2 linked regions of the Homo sapiens genome follow. The protein of the gene in region 1 purifies or fractionates together with the protein of each later gene. This does not show direct contact. Each region holds a gene or a part of one and is shown in the gene's direction. Other genes may lie near its edges.

Evidence for each region.
Region 2: the proteins of TIMM17A (region 1) and ELOVL5 purify together in Homo sapiens (affinity purification with mass spectrometry, with the first as the bait; one large-scale study listed by BioGRID). This does not show direct contact.

Annotation. Positions count from the first base shown.
Region 1 is NC_000001.11:201,958,448-201,962,271, forward strand, and holds part of TIMM17A (mitochondrial import inner membrane translocase subunit Tim17-A), read left to right. Parts: intron 1-3,824. UniProt on the Homo sapiens protein: Essential component of the TIM23 complex, a complex that mediates the translocation of transit peptide-containing proteins across the mitochondrial inner membrane.
Region 2 is NC_000006.12:53,338,931-53,342,754, reverse strand, and holds part of ELOVL5 (very long chain fatty acid elongase 5), read left to right. Parts: intron 1-3,824. UniProt on the Homo sapiens protein: Catalyzes the first and rate-limiting reaction of the four reactions that constitute the long-chain fatty acids elongation cycle.

The DNA of each region.
Region 1 (3,824 bases):
ATCCCAGCAGTTTGGGAGGCTGAGTTAGGCAGATAGCTTGAGCTCAGGAGTTCGAGACCAGCCTGGGCAGCATGGCTGCCCATTTCCCCAGAAAAATGGAAAAATTAGCCAGGTGTTGGGGCATGTGCCTGTGGTCCCAGCTACTAGGGAGGCTGACATGGACGGATCACTTGAACCCATGAGGTTGAGGCTGCAGTGAGATTGCACCACTGCACTCCAGCCTGGGTGACAGAGACCCTGTCTCAAACAGCAACAAAAACAAACAACACAAGGGTATAGTTAGATTGGAGAGACCGTATATAAGACATGAAAAAATCTTAATACTTCAGTCGTTCCTTAGATGTTTTGGGTATCAAAATAATCTTCTCTTTGCTTTTCTTAACTCTCACAGTAATGAAGAAGTTAGTACTATTATTATCTCCCATTTTCCAGATGAGGAAATTTAGTTCCTGAGGGTTGAGGTAATGTTGTATCTTTTTCCTTTGTTCCCTGTGTAAGAATTATCTACCCTGGAAAGTAATTAGTAACTAATTTCTCTTTGTTTTTGTGTTGGTGGTTATTGTGTTATTCAAGAATGATGAGTGGTATTAAAAAGTTCACACCAAACCCAGAACCTCTAGTATATGCAGAAGCCATATAGGTTTTTGCTTGTTTTTTGAGAGGCTGCTTCTATCACCTTACGCATTTTCAGTGAGTTAAAATACCATCAGATAACTGTCACTGCCAAAAGAAGCCTGTGAAGACATAGCAACTAAATTATTAGCTGGGCCCGGTGGTGCATGCCTGTAGTCCCAGCTACTCAGGAGGCTGACGCAGGAGAATCGCTTGAACCCAGGAGGTGGAGTTTGCAGTGAGCCGAGATTGCACCACTGTACTCCAGGCGGGGTGACAGAGCAAGACTCTGTCTCTAAAAAATAAAATAAAAGGGCTGGGCACAGTGGCTCACGCCTGTAATCCCAACACTTTGGGAGGCTAAGGCGGGTGGATCACGAGGTCAGGAGTTTGAGACCAGCCTGGCCAACGTGGTGAAACCCCATGTCTACTAAAAATACAAAAATTAGCTGGGCATGGTGGCACGTGCCTGTAATCCCAGCTACTCAGGAGGCTGAGGCAGGAGAATCGCTTGAACCCAGGAGGTGGAGGTTGCAGTGAGCCAAGATTGTGCCATTGGACTCCAGCTTGGGTGATAGAGTGAGACGCTGTCTCAAAAAATAAATAAATAAATAAAATTAAAAACTAAATGTAGGCCGGGCGCGGTGGCTCACGACTGTAATCCCAGCACTTTCGGAGGCCGAGGCAGGTGGATCACAAGGTGAGGAGAGCGAGACTACCCTGGCTAACACGGTGAAACCCCATCTCTACTAAAAATACTAAAAATACAAAAAAAAACAACAACAAAAAAAATTAGCCGGGCATGGTGACGGGCGCCTGTAGTCCCGGCTCCTTGGGAGGCTGAGGCACAAGAATGGCTGAACCCGGGAGGCGGAACTTGGCAGTGAGCCCAGATCACACCACTGTACTCCAGCCAGGGTGACAGCGAGACTCTGTCTCAAAATAAATAAATAAATAAATAAAAATAAATGTAATGTGGTACTGTGGAACAGAAAAAGGACATTAGCAAACTAAGGAAATCTGAATTAAGTATGGACTTCAGTTAATAGTAATGTGTCGGCCGGGCACAGTGGCTCACACCTGTAATCCCAGCACTTCGGGAGGCTGAGGCAGTAGATTACCTAAGGTCGAGAGTTCGAAACCATCCTGGCCAACATGGTGAAACCCCCGTCTCTACTAAAAATACACCAATTAGCCGGGTGTGGTGGCAGGCACCTGTAATCCTAGCTACTCGGGAGACTGAGGGAGAAGAATCGCTTGAGCCCGGGAGGCAGAGTTTGTAGTGAGCCGAGATTGTGCCATTGCACTCTAGCCTGGGCAACAGAGCAAGACTCTGTCTCAAAAAAAAAAAATAGTAATGTGTCAATATTGGGTCATTAGTTGTGACAGATGCTCCATGCTAATGTAGATGTTGGTAATAGGGAAAAACTGGAAGAGTTTATTTTTTCTTACAAAGCACGGTGAAATAGAGGAAGAGTGAGTGGTGATATGAGTGAATTGGAATTATCCATTTCAAATCCTAGAGGTTAGCCTTTTTTAGGAAGCTATTGAGAAGTTTTTATGGTATTTTAAATTCTAAAAATACTAGGATGATGATTTTATTAATTTGGTGAGCATTTGCTAAGGTATTCAGATCAAGGTGCAGGGAGGGACAGGCAGTATGGGAAAATCATAGTTGTGTTCTGAAAGGTGTTATATTTTCTTTCTTTTTTTTTTTGAGATAGGGTCACCCAGGCTGGAGTGTGGTGGCACAGTCTTGGCTCACTGCAACCTCCGCCTCCCAGGTTCAAGTGATGCTCCCACCTCAGCCTCCTGAGTAGCTGGGATTATAGGCATGCGCCACCACAGCCGGGATAATTTTTGTATTTTTAGTAAAGACGAGGTTTCACCATATTGGTCAGGCAGGTCTTGAACTCCCTACCTCAGGTGATCCGCCTACCTCAGCCTCCCAAAGTGCTGAGATTACAGGCATGAGCCACCACGCCCGGACTTAGGTCTTATATTTTCTTTTTTTTTTTTTTTTGAAACGGAATTTCGCTCTTGTTGCCCAGGCTAGAGTGCAATGGCGCGGTCTCGGCTCACGTCAACTTCCATCTGTCCGGTTCAAGCGATTGTCCATCCTCAGCCTCCCAAGTAGCTGGGATTACAGGCGCATGCCGCCACTTCTGGCTAAGTTTTTTGTATTTTAGTGGAGATGGGGTTTCACCATGTTGCCCAGGCTGGTCTCGAACTCTTGAGCTCAGGCAGTCCACCCGTCTTGGCCTCCCAAAGTGCTAGGATCACAGGCGTGAGCCATCCGGCCCAGCCCAGGTCTTATATTTTCATAGAGAAAATAAGATAGGATTTTGACATGTCCCTGTTACTCTTTGACCACTTTCTTGCATTTTGGAAGAAGACGTTTCAGGCTCATCTTGTACTTTTCATGCCCTAGCTGTGGGCAGGGCAGCTTTTCCTGTTGTAGCCATTTCTCCAAAGAGCCCCAGTTCCTTTTAGTTGAGAATGGTATTTAGGGCCAGAAGTGGTAGCTCACACCTGTAATCCCAGCACTTTGGGAGGCCAAGGCAGGAGAATGGCTTGAGCCCAGGAGTTCAACACCCTTGACAACTTAGAGAGAATGCCTCTCTACAAAAAAATTTTTTAAAAGAAAAATCAAGAATGGTATACAATCTATATTTCTGTATATCTATACATACTGAAAATCACAAGTTTATATTGATATCTCGTATTTCCAGTTCATCCCACAGGATTCATTATTTTCTTCCTTTTCATATGTATACCTGCCTTCTTAACCTGCTTGGGCTATGGTACCCCACAACAGGCTGCCCTTTGTCAGAGTATACTCTGACACTCCATGCCAGGCTGCCTTCCTTGAGAATCTCTCTCTTGCTTAGGCTCTAAAACCTTGTTCTCGGGTGTCCAGGTGTATAGACGTTCGCCTCATCTGGCTCTGGATCCTCACACCAGGCTACCCTTTATGGATCTCCTCCTCATCCTGCTTAGACTCAAATTCTCCATTCTCATTAGTAGCCAACACTTATTCTGGCAATGATTCTCAGGGGAAGGGTCTCCTGAGATTTTAGGCTCATGAGGAAATGGGAGGGTCTTGTCAGAAAATTTTAGTGAGGTAATTCTAATATACCTAGACGTCATAGCTCTCTCCCAGGGCATAGAATTACTGAGTTAGAAGAAATAACTGGTTTGTTTTTACATAG
Region 2 (3,824 bases), on another chromosome or scaffold:
ATGTCTGCTGGCTGACTGGGATTTAGGGAAAAATTTCTGATTTATTTTAAGATTTTTAGTGCTGATACTGGCATGCTTTCTCTAATTGGGAGAATAACAATTTTATTGAAATATACCTGTGATTTTAAACTGTAATCTTTATGGTTATATTAGGTAGGCACCCTCTTGCGAGCACAGGTTCCATCTCTGTTAAGTTCCACATTTACCCCATCCTTTTCCTCATGTCAACAATTTCATCCTGTCAGAATTAATCTCTTATAAGCCCATGCTGAACAGACCTAATTGAAGCCATGCTGGCGAATTGGCCACTCAGGTCTGTGTTTTATGAGTTTCTGAACCCCAGAGTAGTACTTGTTCCTCTTTGGTCTTGGCACAGCAAATGCTACAACAAAGTGAGTGTTATGAATTTCTCCTTCCCTGAAGAATAGTTCTCATGATACCAAATTCAGTAATTATTCATTTGCTTCCAGGGGAGTTTGAAATGTGATGTATCTCCCTAGGGGTAGTATTCAGGGTACTTCTGCTTCAGTCTTTGGCAGAAGAAATAATACTTCAATATTTACAGAAGTCGTTGACGCCTCCATCAGCTGTATTTGTTAGAAGCATCTGTGTGAAAATTTGAGTTTGCTTCTGTCCGAACTTCTGCATATTAATCTCTGTGATGGATCTGAGGTGCATTTAAAAGAATACCTCCTGTACTTCTTTTAAGTAAGGACAGCTGTGGGAAGCAGATTGGGTTGGCAGCCTGCACCTATGCGGGGTTCCACCTCTGCCACTTAACAGCTGCGTGGGCTTCAGCAGGTAAGTCACTCTACCTCCTTGAGACCCTAGAATCTATGTAGAACTTGGAAGGTGATAATCCTGTGCCTACTTTGGAGGGTATTAAAACTATCAGTATTGTACATGAAAGTTAGGTGGGGCACTGACTTAATTTAATTAGCATAGTAAAAACGTCTCTCTGTTATATAGGATGTTTATTGAAGCATTGTTTCTAATAGCAAAAGATTGGAAGAGTTAGTAGACTAAATGTCCTTGAAAAGAATAAATCATGCTACAGCTGGGCAACGGAATATTCTGCAAATTTTAAAGAGAACAAAGCTGTTCTATGGGTACTGAATATAGCTGCTTGGTACCACATAATAGGCACTTTTCTGAAGTGTTCAACATGTATTAATTCATTGTGGCTTCACAAAAGCCCACGAGGTAGGGACCCCAATTTTACAGATGAGGAAACTAAGATAAAGGTTAAGTCACTTGTCCAAATATCCACAGCTAGTAGGTGGCAGAGGCAGGATTCAAACCCAGGCAGATTGGCTTAAAGACTCTAATCTTGGCCACCCTGCTGTGCTGTACACCTGTCAGACCTAAGTAGTGATCTTTGTATTTGCAGCTTTAGATACATGAGAGGAAACAAGGTTGAGTTTCTTATTCATCGTTACATTCTGGGAGGCTGACGGTATAATCAACATATAGCTTCTGTTGACAGTAACTAAATAAAGGTTTAGATAAAGAAAGCTAATAGGGAATAACATTTATGATCAATACTTGAAAGGGTGACCGTTTGTTTCTTCCATTACTCCTTATTTTAGATATTTTGAACTTAAACCTCTTTTTTGGGGAAAATCAGAAGCGTACACACTGAATAGCTTACAATTGTTAGTGTAAGAAATCAGTGTTCAAAAGCCCAGTTGAGTCAGTGTTCACTAGCCTGACTGGTCTAGTGTGGCTGGATTAGTATGACTGGCCAAGGGCATCCAGCATTGGTTTCCTTACCCGGTCCTAGCCCCATCTGGTTTGATTTACAAGGTATATACGCTCAGAGAAATGCAGACGGGAGGGAAAGACACTCACATTCTTTAGGGAGCCTCTATCTCCAGATTGCCTGATCTCCCTTGGGTGAAAATGTAAGTCAGGTGTACAAGTCGTACAAGTCATGTATAGCTTGACAATGGGAATACTTTTTGAGAAATGTACTCTTAGGCAATTTTGTTGTTGTGTGTTCATCATAGAGTGTACTTAGACAAACCTAGATGGTTACCACATACATAGGGCATATGATATACCACATTGCTCCTAGGCTACAAACCTGTACAGCAAGTTACTGTACTGAATACTGTAGCTAGCTGTAACACAGTGGCAAGTATCTGTATATCTAAATGAAGAAAAGATATAGTAAAAATATAAAAGATAAAAAATGATACAACTATGTAGGGCACTTGCCATGAATGGAGCTTGCAGGACTGGAAGTTGCTCTGGGTAAGTCAGTGAGTGGGGAGTGAATGTGAAGGCCTAGGACTTTACTGTACACTCTAGACTTTATAAACACTGTATACTTAGGCTACATTAGGTTTATAAAAAATATTTTTTGATTAGGTGTGGTGGCTCATGTCTGTAATCTCAGCACTTTGTGAGGTTGAGGTGGGACCAGGCATTTAAGACCAGCCTGGGCAATATCACAAGACTCCATCTCTACTTATTTATAATAAAAGTTTTTTTAAAAATATGTATTATTTTAATATATATTTTTCTTCCTTAATACATAAACTGTAGCTTATTGTAACATTTCTATTTTATAAATTTTTTAAACTTTTTTACTCTTTTGTAATAATACTTAGCTTAAAACACAGGCTGTATGGCTGCAAAAAAAATATTTTATTTCTTCGTATCCTTATTCTTCAAGCTTTTTTTCTCCTTTTAAAGTTTTTTAAACTTTTTTGTTAAAAACTAAAACAAACATACACATTAGCCTAGGTCTGTACAGGGGCAGGATCATCAATGTCACCGTCTTCCATCTCCACATCTTGTCCCACTGAAAGGTCTGTAGGAGCAGTAACACACATGAGCTGTCATTTCCTATGACAACAATGCCTTCTTCTGGAATACCTCCTGAAGGACCTATCTGAAGCTGTTTCATAGTTAACTTTTTAAAATATGTAATTAGAAGGTGTACACTCAATTAATGATAAAAAAGTATAGTATACCAAATACATAAACCAATGACATAGTTCTTTATCATCAGCATCAAGCATTATGTACTGTCCATAATTTTATGTGTGATACTGTTACAGGTCTAGCTATGCAGTAGGTTTATTTACACCAACATCACCACAAATGTTTTATTGTGCTATGATGTCACTAGGCAATAGGAGTTTTTCAGCTCCATTATAATGTTACAGGAGTATCATTGTATATGTGGTCCATTGTTGATTTAAAGGTCATTATGCGATGCGTGACTATATTTTGAAAACATTCTGATAGAGAATGACATTAAGTCATTTTGATACAAGGCCCCATTAAGGGCCACTGTGCTGGGCCATGGTGTTCAGGCTATAGACAAGTCTGCCACCACCTTCAGTTCTCTTAGGATCCTTAGACTCTTTCAGAACTGAGTTTTCTTTCTGGGTGTGGGACACTAGGTTTGGCAACATTGTAATGGCTATAAGTATCAGCATTCCTAAAATAAGAGAATCACAAAATTCATGGGGTGGCTTATATATTCACATGGAATCTGAACAGGTGATAAAACAACTGTTGGTTTCAGAGACATGCTATAGAGGAGATGAATACACAGTTGCTAGACTGTGTGTCCCTTTGAAAAATGCTGTATTGTAGCAGGATTTTCCCCCATTTTTTACACATTTAACTTTGCTTCTCCCTCTCCTCACTCACCCTCACACCCAAACAACAGTTATAAAATGTGGGCGTGTAGATTGAGTTTTAAAAAAGAAATGTGTTTTTGTGTTATATGCCTTATTTATGTTACACAGGCTTGAATTAAAATCTTTTAAGACATTTTCGTTTGGGGGGTTGCATAACTAATCTTT